Linked DNA regions of Homo sapiens. The protein of the gene in region 1 interacts with the protein of each later gene in a pairwise test. Each region holds a gene or a part of one and is shown on either strand. Other genes may lie near its edges.

The links. The genes of interacting proteins can lie anywhere in the genome.
Region 2: the proteins of MYCBPAP (region 1) and MYCBP interact in binary tests that used the Homo sapiens proteins (3 or more experiments, as listed by UniProt).

The regions. Positions count from the first base shown.
Region 1 is NC_000017.11:50,504,028-50,511,452, forward strand, and holds the start of MYCBPAP (MYCBP-associated protein), read left to right. Parts: upstream 1-4,411; 5' UTR 4,412-4,518; coding exon of another isoform or gene 4,519-4,647; coding exon 4,648-4,723; intron 4,724-7,425. UniProt on the Homo sapiens protein: May play a role in spermatogenesis. May be involved in synaptic processes.
Region 2 is NC_000001.11:38,863,349-38,870,348, reverse strand, and holds part of MYCBP (C-Myc-binding protein), read left to right. Parts: intron 1-2,738; coding exon 2,739-2,787; intron 2,788-3,339; coding exon 3,340-3,469; intron 3,470-5,634; coding exon 5,635-5,679; 3' UTR 5,680-7,000. UniProt on the Homo sapiens protein: May control the transcriptional activity of MYC. Stimulates the activation of E box-dependent transcription by MYC.

The DNA.
Region 1 (7,425 bases):
CCCGAGCCTCAGTCTTTAGGAGGGTGGCTGTCCCTGGGAAATGGATGATGCGGTCTGTGGAGGAAATGCGCTTTCTATTTAGGGAGGCTGTTTAGGAGTAGCTGACGACATGCTCAGCACCTGGATGGGTGGAAATAAACAGAGACATGAAGCAATAATTTATGCCGTGTCCTCTGTCAACCTAGCCACCACCTCCTCCTCCCTGGGCTCCAGGAAGTTGCTCAGAGTTGTGGCGCTGGGAGGAGACTGCGGGAGCTATGCTGGTGAAGCGATGCTGTCATCTGAGCTTGTGCTTTACACACACTGGGCTTTTTTTTTTTTTTTTTTTTTTGAGACAGAGTCTTGCTCTGTCACCCTAGGCTGAAGTGCAGTGGCGCAATCACAGCTCACTGCAGCCTCGACCTCCCAGGCTCAAGCAATGCATCCACCTCACTCTCTTGAGTAGCTAGGACCACAAGGGCATGGCACCACATCTGGCTAATTTTTAGAAATTTTTTTGTAGAGACGGGGTCTCACTATGTTGCCCGGGCTGGTCTCAAACTCCTGGGCTCAAGTGATCCTCCTGCCTCAGCCTCCCGAAGTGTTGGGATTATAGGCACAAGCCATCATGCCCAGCCCCCTCCAGGCCTTTGTACCTTCTGTGTCCTCACCTGGAGTACCTGCCCCCTGAACTACCCATTGAACTCTTTATTTAGTGGCCCACCTCCTCTAAGAAGTGCTACCTCCTCTAAGAAGGCCCCCCTCATATCCAGTCTGTGGTTCCTAAATTGCAGCTAATGACTACCCCATGAGCTCACACATTAGAGTTGGAAATCTACTTTCAAATGACCCCACTTTGTGTCTAAAGCACTCTGACCTTCTTCTACCCCCACCCCAGTCGCACATCAGTGAGCTTCAGGGAATCTCTGGAATTGAATACAAAGTCATGTGCAAAATCAGATGTGCAAATGTATGGATAAACAAAATACAGTATACCCATAAACGAAATATTATTCAGCCACGAAAAGGAATGGAGTCACTGATACGTGTTAAGTGAAAAAAAAAAAAACAGACAGAAAAGGCCAAATATTGTATGATTCCATTGATATGAAGTATCAAGAATAGGCAAATCAGTAAAGACAGAAAGGAGCTTAGCGATTGTTAGGGGATGGGGGTCGGGGCTGGGGAATGACTGGTAGAGGGTTTCCTTTGGGGATGATGAAAACATTCTGGATGTAGGTAGTGTAGGTAGTGGTGATGGTGGCACTACATTGTGTGTGTACTAAATGTCACTCAGTTGAATATATTAAAATGGTGACTTTTATGTTATGTGTATTTTACAACAGTTTTAAAAAAAGTCAAATGCACGTTTCTCAGGAGAAGATTCCTAGGTTTGATTGGCTTCTCAAAAGGTGAAGCAGCTCTGATCTGGTCTGGACCCCTTCATGTCATGATGCAGATGGTGATACTGGGACACAGACAGGGGGTGAGACCTGTCCAAGGTCACTCAGGGGCTGGTGGCAGAGCCCAGCCAGGTTGCATGCCTGCCTGACCACATACTCCCCTACCTGCTTCTTCCCTTGTCCTTTGGTCACCAAACCCTCCCGTCACAATCCCCAAGCCTCTGTCCTGCTCCCAAACATGCCACCCACAAGCTGTGTAACTTCCCAAAGTTAAAAGGCCTTCTTCCTGAAACTGGGTGCACGGATTAGAGTTTCATGAGCGTTTGTCTTTTGCTCTAGAGTGGACTCTGAGCTCCTAGAGGGCAAGAGGAAATGTTTCTTATTTTCCTCCATATCTTACAGAGCTTCTGGGACAGCCACGGAGGTGAGCCATTCCTGTCTCCCTTCAAGAAAGAACTTGCCATTCACCCTCAAGGAGGGCAGTTAGCTGACAACTTCTAACAAACATTCTTTGCCCAGAGGACATGCTGGGTTGGCCAAGACTTTGTTAGATCTGCAGCACAGTCTGAGGCTCTCCCAGCCCTTTCCTGCTTCCTCTCCCTCACCGGCCTTGCCACTACCCCCTCTCTCCGCAATAAACCTCTTGCGGTCCTATGTTCATCTCAGTGCTTGCTTCCTGGAGGACCCACATGGCACAGCACCTAGCCTGCTGGATCATAAGTGCTCAGTCGCGAAGTAAACGGAACTGGGGATTCTCTAGAGGGTAGAGGGAAGCCAGAGCCTGGGCCTCGGAGAGCAGGAGAGGGGCTGTCCGTGGAGGATGCCTCAGTCATAAGGAGAGCAAGGTCTAGAGCAGTGTGAAGAAGGGGCCATGGCCCTGGAGCAGGACCCAGCAACGGGCAACACACAGGGAACTCAGGGATTCACCAGCACTGCTGGCATCGTCTCTAGCTCCTCCGCTGTCTGGGGCAGCTCTTGCAAACTCAGAAATGTCCCAGGAGACAGGGTTCAAAGAGCCCTGGCCTTGGACTTTAGAAAACCAGGTTCAATTTGTGCTTCCCGCTAGTCAGGTGACATTACACCCTTCTCTCTGGAGCTCAGTTTCTCCGTTTGTAAAATGGGCTTATAATGTGTCCCCTCCCTTCAACCCCAGCATGATTTTGAGAATTGACTGAGAAGATACTACAGTTTATGGAGGGCACCCTGTTTCGTAGTTTAAATGCACACTCAGGCCAGGTGAGGTGGCTCATGCTTGTAATCCCAACACTTTGAGAGGCCAAGGCGGGAGGATCGCTTAAGCCCACGAGTTCAAGACCAGCCTGAACAACATAGCAAGACCCTGTCTCTACAAAAAATTTAATAATTAGCTGGGTGCAGTGGCACATGCCTGTAGTCCCAGCTACTCGGAAGGCTAAGGCAGCAGGATCATTTAAGCTCAGGAGTTTGAAGCTGCAGTGAGCTATGATTGTGCCACTGCACTCCAACCTGGGCAACAGAGTGAGATACTCGCTAAGAAAAAGAAATACATACATATTCATTTAACCCTGGCAGTGGCCTTGTGAGAGCAGCATTATGACCTCCATTTTATGTATGTATATATGTATGTATGGATGTATGAGATGGGGATCTCACTTTGTTGCCCAGGCTGGAGTACAGTGGTGCAATCAGAGCTCACTGCAGCCTGGACCTCCTGGGCTCAAGCAATCTTCCTGCCTTAGCCTCCAGAGTAGCTAAGACTACAGGTGTGGGCCACCAAAGCCAGCTAATTAAAAAAAAATTTTTTTAGGCTAGGCACGGTGGCTCACGCCTGTAATCCTAGCACTTTGGGAGGCCGAGGCGGGCAGATCACGAGGTCAGGAGTTCGAGACCAGCCTGACCAACTGGTGAAACCCCATCTCTACTAAAAATACAAAACTTAGCCAGGCATGGTGGCACTCGTCTGTAATCCCAGCTACTCAGGAGGCTGAGGCAGGAGAATCGCTTGAACCTGGGAGGCAGAGGTTGCAGTGAGCCGAGATGGCACCACTACACTCCAGCTTGGGCACAGAGCAAGACTCCGTCTCAAAAAAAAAAAAAAAAAAATTTTTTTTTTTTTTTAGAATGGAGTCTCCCTACGTTGCTCAGGTCAATTTTGAACTCCTGGCCTCAACCAATCCTCCTGCCTCAGCCTTCTAAAGCACTAGGATTGTAGGCCTGAACCACTGTGCCCAGCAGAGAAAACCGGCTCTCTAGGTCAAGGCATTGGCTCAAGAACACACAGCTAACAAGCCGACATAGCTGGGATTAGAACCCAATTGTCTGGCTCTAGAACCCCTTCACTATTTGAGGTACAATTTACTGCCTGACTACTAGTGCTAAACTTTGGGTTGGGGGCAGGGCCTGAGGCAGCTCCTGCTCTCATACATTCTGAGAGCCAGTTTGACAATAGGCAACTACACAAAAAACCGAAATAATCCCAGAATGCCTCAGGGCTCCAGGGGAAGGCGAAAAAAGCGGGTGCGTTTATAAACTTAAAATAATCAGAGGCAGCATCTCCAAGGACTGTGAGAATGCCCCAAGTCAGGGCAAAAGTTTTGGCTGGTTTGGGAAGTGATGAAAGGCCAAAGTGGCTGCAGCGAGCGTGGACCCGGGAGGTCTCCAGGCGCGTTGGTGCGAGTTGGGGACGGCAGGCAGGGACACCTAAAACCTACGGTACGCCACGAAGGGGTTTCAGCACGTCCTGAAAGGCCCGATCCCCCCCCAGAACCGCTGTGAGGGGGGCAGAGGGAGGTCCCTCGACAGGATGTGGCCTTAGTCGAGGAAGGCGGGAAGCAGGGGCTGGCACCCCCGACGCCCCACCCGCCCCCCGTGGCCTAGCAGCAGGGCGGGGCGAGGCGGGTCATGCACCCCTACCAGCCAGCCACTCCCACCCAGCCCTCGGCTCCCGCAACTCGCGGGGGTCCTCGCCCGGGTCCCCCGCCCCGCCCCGCCCGGCTGGTGACGTCACGGCGCTCGTCGGCGCCGCCTGTGGCGTCACAGGCCGGGCCCGCAGGGCTTTCTAGGGGTCCGTCGCTCTTGAAGCCGCCGGCGGCGGGCGCGTGCGCGGCCCGATGAAGAAGGAGGTTTCCAAGCCGTCTCCGCCCAAGTTGATCGGTGGATGCGCGCCCCCGCGCGGGGCACCGGTTGCTGTGGACGCAGTGGCGGCCGTTGGCTGGCGGGTGCGGCGCAGCCTCGGTGTCTCTGGGCCGGCGGTGCAGGGCAACGTTTCATGGTGCCGGGCGGCACCATGAAGTCTCTAAAGAAGGATTCCCGCCTCAGAATAACTCCGACCAGATTATTAGAGGCCTCAGAGAATGTCAAAGGTTGGCGCTGGCTGCCTTGGGCGCTCGGGAGAACCCGAGAGGGGAAGCGGTCCCCGGAAAGAGTTCAGGACACGGGGCCTGGAGGATGGGGATGGCACCAGGGATGGAGGAAAGATCACGGGGAAGTGGGGTACTGGGCATAGGACCCTTAGGGATGGGGGGCAAGGCAGGAAGAGCCTACAGCGCACTGGGCCTTGGGGATGGGGACATAGGAAGTGGGAGACTGACAGAGGGGCCTCAGGGACCACTGGCTGGGGAGATGGCCTTGCGCTACCTCTAACCACATCTTAGGGTGGCATGCAGGAGGCAGGATCCCCGGACTGGATGAAGTGCAGAAGAGCCAGGAAAGAGTTTAAGGGTAGAAGGGCCAGGAATTGGGGTCCTTGGGAAGAGGAAAGAATGAAGTGTTGAAACCAGCCACCTTGATGGGATTATTTGGTAGAGGAGGGTCGGGGAGCGGGGCAGGCGTCACTTAGGATTCCTGCTGGAAAAACCCAGAAGAAAGGCCTTGCTTGGCTAGTTCTCTTTTTGACTGCCTTTTCCTACCACGTGCACTTTCCAGCTGGATGACACTTATCCAGCTCCTTTAGCCTGGAAAGAATCGCTAGATATGACTGCTTCCTACCCTCTACAGCTTTCTTCTGGTTGCACCTGGGAGAGCCACAGGGCGTCTGATAGCGGACTGACTTCCATGGACATGTTCTCACTTGCAACCCACCCCCTTTTGATCTTTTTTGGCTGTTTCCATTTATTTATTTTTAAATTTAATTTTTAGCTTTTTTTTTCTGTGTGTGTGTGTGTGTGTGTGTGTGTGTGTGTGTGTGTTTGTAAACAGGGCTCTCGCTGTGTTGCCCCAGCTAGTGTCAAATTCTTGGCCTCAAGCGATCCTCCTGCCTCGGCCTCACAGACTGCTAGGATTCCAGGCATGGACCACTGCGCCCAGCCTATTTTTGTTTACTGAGAGCTGATTTTGTGTGGTACTGTGGCTCACCAGAAGGGTATCGGTATTAACTGTGTGACCCTGGTCCTCAAGAAACTCAGTCTAATGAACACCTGGAGGAGTAACCTGACAAAGGTAGAAATACAAATGCTGTGATGTAGGTGCCCATCGGGCTTAAGGGGGCTCAGAGCACCTGAGCCAGACCAGGGATGGTTGTAGGGGTACGTCTTCTGAAGAAGGTGACATCTATGGCAGACAAGAAAAAAAAGGAGAGGTTTGCTTCTCTAGGTCTAGGAAGCAGCATGAGTTTATGGAACTGTAAATGTGGGAACCAGAAGAGGCTGCACAGGTGGGTAGGTCAGGGGCCAGACCATGAAAGGGCTTTATGTACTAGGTCAGAAAGCCTGGATGTGCTCTTGCAGGCCCTGGGGAGACCCAGCCTCAGAGTTGTGAAAGCTCATTGTGAGGAGAGGGGACCCTCAGAAAACTAACAGGAGCTTAGTCGCTTTTCAGTATGGCTTTATGTTTCTTCACGTATAAAAGTCCAACGTTGAGCCGGGCATGGTGGTGCACATCTGCAGTCTCAGCTGCTCAGGAGGCTGTGGCAGGAGGATTGTTCCAGGCCAGGAGTTTATGATCACACCTGTGAATAGCCACTGCATTCCAGACTGGGCAACACAGTGAGACCCCCATTATTAAAAAAATAAAAGTCCAATGCTGTTTTATGACATACTATATATATATATGTATGTATTTTATATATATTATGTATATGTGTATATATGTGTGTGTGTGTGTGTGTGTGTGTGTATATATATATATATATATATATATATATATATATATGTATTTTGAGACAGGGCCTCGCTCTGTCACCCGGGATGGAGTGCCGTGGTACAGTCATAGGTCACTATAGTCTTGAACTTCTGGGCTCAAGTGAACCTCCTGCCTCAGCCTCCCAAGTTGCTAGTATTACAGGTGCACACCACCATGCCTGGCAAATTTTTTTTTTTTTTTTTTTTGTAGAGACAAGTTGCCCAGGCTGGTCTTAAACTCCTGGGCTCAAGCGATCCTCCCACCTTGGCCTCCCAAAGTGCTGGGATTACAGGCATGAGCCACCGTGCCTGGCCCGTGACATACTTTTTAATAGTTGAGAGAGAGGGAATATCTGGTCTCCTTTCACAAGGGCAGTCAAGGGCTTTCCTAGCCACTGCCTCCTGCTCACATAGTTTCTGGGAGATCGTATCAGATTTGAACTGCTGTAAACAAATCAAGGAAAGATTTTTCACTGCATATTTATTTTTAATAAGCAGAAAATTTAGTTTGTTAATTAACCCTTGAGTTAAGAACATGCACCAGAGTGAGGAGGGAAAAAAAATGAAGTGTTTAGCATGCAAGATATCTTTTTAAAAATATCTCAGGGGAGCCTCTAATGTTGTAGAGCAGTACTCTCCCCCAGCCCCCATACAAGGCAGCTAATGACCCAGTGTCATTTTGTAACCTTGTGCGATGTTTCTCCAAAGTCTCTGACTCATAAGCAAAAAGGAAAGCAAAAATAGTGACTTAAACCTGTTTCTCGGGACCTGAGAGCCCTTTTGAGTCCTAGTACCCTCCCTTCCTGCTATGCACCACCTCCCCACCGCTGTCTTGTTGCTAAGAAACCAAGAACCCTCCTAGCAATATTAGATTCCCCTCCCCAACCAATTAAAGCTCTGCCCTAGTAGGGACAGCCCCTCCATGGTTCCCCCAGCCCAACCCTAAG
Region 2 (7,000 bases), on another chromosome or scaffold:
TTTTTCGAGACAAGGTCTCTGTCGCCCAGACTGGAGTGCAGTGGTGCAGTCATGTCTCAGTGCAGTCTTAATCTCCCAGGTTCAAGCAATTCTCCCACCTCAGGCACCCAAGTAGCTGAGACTACAGGCACGCACCACCATGTCCGGCTGATTTTTAATTTTTTTTTTTTTTTTTTTTTGAGACGGAGTCTTGCTCTGTCACCCAGGCTGGAGTGCAGTGGTGCGATCTCTGCTCACTGCAAGCTCCGCCTCCCGGGTTCACACCATTCTCCTGCCTCAGCCTCCCAAGTAGCTGGGACTACAGGTGCCTGCCACCATGCCCGGCTAATTTTTTTTGTATTTTTAGTAGAGACGGGGTTTCACCATGTTAGCCAGGATGGTCTCAATCTCTTGACCTCATGATCTGCCTGCCTCGGCCTACCAAAGTGCTGGGATTATAGGCGTGAGCCATCATGCCTGGCCAATTTTTTTTTTTTTTTGTAGAGTTGGGGTGTTGCCCAGGTTGATCTCAAACTCCTGGGCTCAAGCAATCCTCCTGTCTTGGCCTCTCAAAGTGCTGGAATTTCAGGAATGAGCCACTTTGGCCTAAATTTTTACAGCTTATTTCCAAGATGATTTGAAATAGTTTATAACATTAAAACACTATGAAAGGATGGCTAAAGATGATAAATCATTTGGAAGCTGAAGCATTTTAGCTATTTTGAGCGCTATATCAACCTCTAAAAATCCTGGCTGCGAAGGCAAAAAGGGGAGCATGATTGGGTATAGAGTTCTTGTCTGATTACAAGGAAGTGCATTTCATCTATAGAACAGCACAGGAAACTTTGTATTTACAGTATCTTCTGCAACTATCAACCTTTCAAGTACCAGTGACAAATGAGAAGCTGAAAGAAATGGGGTGGGGGAATAAGAGGAGGAGAGAGTAGAGTATTAATATTCATGTCTTATAAAATGAGGATTTGGCCAGGTGTGGTGGCTCACACCTGTAATCCCAGAACTTTGGGAGGCTGAGGTGGGTGGATCACCTGAGGCTGGGAGTTCGAGACTAGCCTGACCAACACAGAGAAACCCCGTCTCTACTAAAAATACAAAATTAGCCGGGCATGGTGGCACATGCCTGTTATCCCAGCTACTAGAGAGGCTGAGGCAGGAGAATCGCTTGAACCTGGGAGGCGGGGGTTGTGGTGAGCCAAGATTATGCCATTGCACTCCAGCCTGGGCAACAAGAGCAAAACTCTATCTCAAAAAAAAAAACAAAAAAAAAAAACCAAATGAATTTCTCAAAAAATAGTGATTTTTTCATACTGTATATTATTTTGGTAAGTTATTAAAACTCTAAAAGAACAAAAGGGAAGTATGTAAGTTGGTTTACAACAGGACTTAACTTGGGGTCTAGATATCTATCACTGTTTTTTTGTTTGTTTGTTTTGTTTTTTTGTTTTTGAGACAGAGTCTTGCTCCATCGCCCAGGCTGGAGTGCAGTGGCACGATCTCGGCTCACTGCAAGCTCCGCCTCCTGGGTTGACGCCATTCTCCTGCCTCAGCCTCCTGAGTAGCTGGGACTACAGCCGCCCGCCACCACGCCTGGCTCATTTTTTGTATTTTTTAGTAGAGACGGGGTTTCACTGTGTTAGCCAGGATGGTCTTGATCTCCTGACTTCGTGATCTGCCCGCCTTGGCCTCCCAAAGTGCTGGGATTACAGGTGTGAGCCACTGCGCCCAGCCACATTTTTTTTGTGTGTGTTTACTTTTTTTGCTTTTATTAGATTTTTCAAAGGGTTCCATGCACAAAAAGGCCAACCACTGATTTAGAGTTTTTTATCTAAGTAGTAAATTCTAGGAGGAATTTGTTCCATAGATGAAGAGCAAGGCAGTGCTCATATGAGTGATTAGATATGAAACCACTCAAGTATATCTTATTTTAATGTTGATTTGAGCATGTTGACTACTGGTAAAGTTTTTGGTTGGTGGTTATTTAGCAAAACAAACTTAATTTTTAAGACCATTTTTGAATTCAGAGCTTCTTCCGGTAATTACCATAGTCCTGTTGATTCTTTCCTAAATTCTCGAATTTCTTTCTTCTCACTGTTCTCTCACTCCCATCACTCTACTGCAGGTTGCTGTCTTTTTAAACTGGATTACCACATCAGCCTTTTAACTGTTCTTCCTGTCTTTATCCTTGTCCCACTCCAGCTGGTCCACATAGCAGTTAAGAGTGGATCCTGTCACTCCCTTCCTTTAAACTGTTTAATTATGTGCCAACCAAATTTGCATGACTCTCCCTAATCTGGCCATGACCACCTTTCCAGCTTCCTTTCCTGCCAAATTACATCTCCAGCCATACTTGAATTTTCAGTTCCTCAATACATTGTTTTCTTGCTCCTGGGCCTTCCCATTTTATCTGAAACACTCAACCCCTAGGTATCAGGTCTTTGCCTTCCTTTAGGAAGCCTTCCCTGATGTCCTAGGTTTGCTTAGGTGTTCTTCCAGTGTGCTACTGCAACCCATTATCCAGTATTCCTGCTTGATACCCTCTGTCTAGTTCCTTGCATATCTTTTATGCTTGACTGTAAATTTGTTGAGAACAGGGACCTTGTCTGTCTTGTTCAGCATTGTATAGTCTTTGCAATGTGCTCAGCGTATAGTTGGCACCTAATATTTACTGGGTAATGGAACATAATTTCAGCCATTCAAATTTAATACGTCAATTGTTGCTTTTTCTGCTTTTTGATTTGCAGTGTTGGTAGCCTTATATGAAGAACCAGAGAAACCTAACAGTGCTTTGGAGTATCCTTTCAAGTCAGAAAAAGGCTTTATTTTGAAACTCTTATTTTTTTAGATAGATAATAACCTTTAAAATACTTCTGAATATTGAGAAAGTTACTTTTTTTTTTTTTTTTTTGAGACGGAGTCTTGTACTGTCACCTGGTGGGGAATGCAGTGGCGCAATCTTGGCTTACTGCAACCTCCGCCTCCTGGCTTCAAGCGATTCTCCTGCCTCACGTCTCCCAAGTAGCTGGGATTACAGGTGCCCACCATCACACCCAGCTAATTTTTTTTATTTTTAGTAGAGACGGGGTTTCACTATGTTCATCACGTTGGTCTCAAACTCCTGACCTCGTGATGTGCCCACCTCAGCCTCCCAAAGTGCTGGGATTACAGGCGTGAGCAACCGCACCTGGCCAAGAAAGTTAGTTTCACTTGAGTTTTTGGATGGTGATCTCTGGGTAGATATTGGTGGTAAAGTGGGTGACTCTGGTCAGGGATATTGATACTACTCTGTGCTATTTCATTAGTTTCATTCATGTCTAAGAAGTAAGTTCTTAACATTGATAATAGTTTTTTAAAGCATCACTTAGGAGCTGCTACTCCAGAAAATCCAGAAATAGAGCTGCTTCGCCTAGAACTGGCCGAAATGAAAGAGAAGTATGAAGCTATTGTAGAAGAAAATAAAAAACTGAAAGCAAAGGTAAATTTTTAAAAAGAATTCATATTCAAATAATTTTACCTGTAATAATTGTATGATGAAAACCTCACTGAAATGGACAGGAGGGGAGGGAGGTGGGTGAATATCAATTTGAATTAATTACAATGTAAGGCCAAAGTTATGCCCTGTCAAGAAAACCACAAGACGGGCCTGGCACGGTGGCTTACGCCTGTAATCCCAGCACTTTGGGAGGCCGAGGTGGGTAGATCACGAGGTCAAGAGTTCGAGACCAGCCTGGTCAACATGGTGAAACCCTGTCTCTACTAAGAATACAAAAATTAGCCGGGCATGGTGGCATGTGCCCATAATCCCAGCTACTCGGGAGGCTGAGGCAGGAGAATCGCTTGAACCCGGCAGATGGAAGTTCCAGTGAGCCAAGATCGTGCCACTGTGCTCCAGCCTGGGTGACAGAACAAGACTTCATCTAGGGGGGTTAAAAAAAAAAAAAGAAAACCGCAAGACATACTGGAAATAGGACAAGCAAAGAAGCAAAGTGTGGTCAAGAAGAGGTTCTGGCTGGGTGCGGTGGCTCACGCCTATAATCCCAGCACTTTGGGAGGCTGAGGTGGGCAGATCACCTGCGGTCAGGTGTTCCAGATCAGCCTGGCCAGCATGGAGAAACCCCGTCTCTACTGAAAATACAAAATTAGCCGGGCTTGGTGGTGCATGCCTGTAATCTCAGCTACTTGGGAGGCTGAGGCAGGAGAATTGCTTGAACCCGGGAGGTGGAAGTTGCAGTGAGCCGAGACTGTGCCACTGCACTCCAGCCTGGGCAACAAGAATGAAACTCTGTCTCAAAAAAAAAAAAAAAAAAAAAGAGGTTCTTAGGAACCTGTATTACTAAAAGGATGAGAATATTGGTTAATGTTCTTTATAAGTAAATGGTCAGTTCTGAGGTTCTTAAGCAGTTGATTTTAAGTAGGCCAATATGGGGCGACTGCTTTGTAAATGGCACTTCTTAGAATTTGTATGGTTCATAGTTTGCAAGGCCATATGTAGCGGCCCTCTGTAAATTTGTTAGGACTTAATTTTATCTAGTGCTAAAGTTTTTTCTTTCTTTTTTTGAGACAGGTTCTCTGTTACCCAGGCTTGTGTGCAGTGGTGCAGTCATGTCTCACTGCAGCCTTGACTTCCCAGGCTCAAGTAATCCCCCCACCTCTGCCTCCTGAGTAGCTGGGACTGCAGGCATTTGCCACCATGCTCGGCTAATTTTTAAACTTTTTGTAGAAATGGGGTCCCATTATGTTGCCCTGGCTGGTCTCAAACTCATGACTCAAACGTTCCTCCTGGCCTGGCCTCCCGAAGTGTTGGGATTATAGGCATGAGCCACCTCACCCAGCCAGTTTTTTCTTTTTTCAAAGTCCTGTGAGAATTTTCATGAACTTCAAATTAGTCAACTCTTAAGTCTTTCAGGTCTTACCACATTCTTAATCACATAATGTATTTTACATTACTCTAAGTATTTCTCATAATATATTTTATCTTCTCAACAACTTTGTGAGATAAGTGAAACAAGTACACAAGCCACTTTATAGGTGAGGAAACGAAAGCACAGTGAAGTCTAATAAGCTTCTCAACTCCAACAGGTAGTTGGCAGAACCCTAATGTTAGCCTAGTGTTCTTGCAAGGAACCACACTTAGCATAAAAGAAAATGCAGTTATTTTAAATTATCCAAGATTCCACAATGTGTAGTGCTAGTTAACTCTTTGGAACCTTTTAACTCAAAGACATTAGTAGTTGTTTATTGGCTGGTTAAGTTAAGACATGTCACTTAACTCTTTATCTACTTTTCAGTGGGTATTTTCAGTAAACTTTTGCTGGAGAGGAAGAAAGTTCCTTATAAGCAAATGAATCTTTGGGAAGATATAGTTTATTGCATATCAAGTATTTGAACAGTGCAGTCATGAACTGGAATGAAATTTTAGTTTCAAAGCAATTTTAAAGGTTTATATAAAAAGGGCTTTCATTAGATTTGATTGTATTAAATCTTAAATCACTGAATGATTTAAAATGGATAGTTATAGAAACTGATATTAATACAATTTACTGACAGTAACTAAGTTGAATATAACAGTTACCTTGTTTTACTATTTTTTACTCAATTTAGAATAAAATTCACCTAAATTCCTCTGTCTTTGCCCCATAGCTTGCTCAGTATGAACCACCTCAGGAGGAGAAGCGTGCTGAATAGGATTCTTCTCAGTTTGAAAGACAATGAAAAATGGTTTTGTATGACTTGAATAGTTTGTATAGTATATAATCTTTTCTGAACAGATGCTATAGAACTCTTTTAATATGTTTAATTCACCTATCACACTCTGTTAAAAACACATAGAATCATCAATAAAAACTCAATATAACTTTCTTTGGGTCTTAAAGCAGGAGAATCCAAAGTAAATCCTGAACAAAACCTAAACACAGCCATCTAACTCATTACCTTAAAAGACATTCTGTTTATTAGTCTGATTAGGAATGATGGCACTGGTTGTATTTTAGCCAAGACAGTTTAGCATGGAGCTATTCCTTGGTGCAGTTCAGGATATGAACACAGGTACAGTCATTCTTTGAAGGTGACACTGTTCTGTATATTCCCTATAGGCAGCTGGAGAGATCTGTGTGACACAAGATGCTTTTGTACGGGTTCCCATGAATCTTCTGCTCTTGTTTGTGTGACATGGAACAAATAACTTCTTTGCCACCACTTTGCCTTAGATAACTGTGTGTGTGTGTGCCAGTTTGAACTCTGACACCACATTTTCCTTCTATGCAATCATGCCTGTCTGATAATCTTGCATTGCTTTCCTCTGAGCTTTAGTGGGTCCTAGTTGCACACTGGCCTTTCTGTGCTGTTTTTCAATTTGCCTAATAATAGCAGTTACCCTGATTGTAATTTATGTAACTTTAAACAGGATCACACTGTACCCCCTGCCTGCCTTATTTGCTTACTGAGCACAGGACAGAGGCAATATACAACTCTGGGTTCACACACAAGCTGAGATGAGAAGAGGAATGAGCCATATATTGGGGAAAATCATAGTTTGTAGGTATAATTATATAGTGCTTTTCTCCCTCAAAGTATTTTTCTAGCCTTGAATTCATTTTATCTTCATTATCCCTGTGAAGTAGGTGGGACAAGTATAAGGGGAAGAGGGGTGCTGAATTTTTAGGCCAAAGACTGATATTAATACAAATCACTCACTAACTGTAGAGCCTTGGGCATTATCAGTGAACTACTCTGAGATTTACTGTCTTCATCTGTTTAATGAGTAGAATGTCCGTGATGCCTACCTCACAGGGTTGTTGTGAGGGTCAAATGAGAATGTATGTGAAAGATTTGTAAATGGTAAAGCACTATATTCTTGTTTGTTAGTCCTTTTTCCTTTCTTTGGGTAGACCTACAGTCAGATGTTTTGTTTTATGGATCACTTATTTTCCTTACTGGTAGACTGTCGTTTTATAGACATATTCCTATTTCATATATTCTCTCCCTGTTGTTAGAGAACCTATCTTTG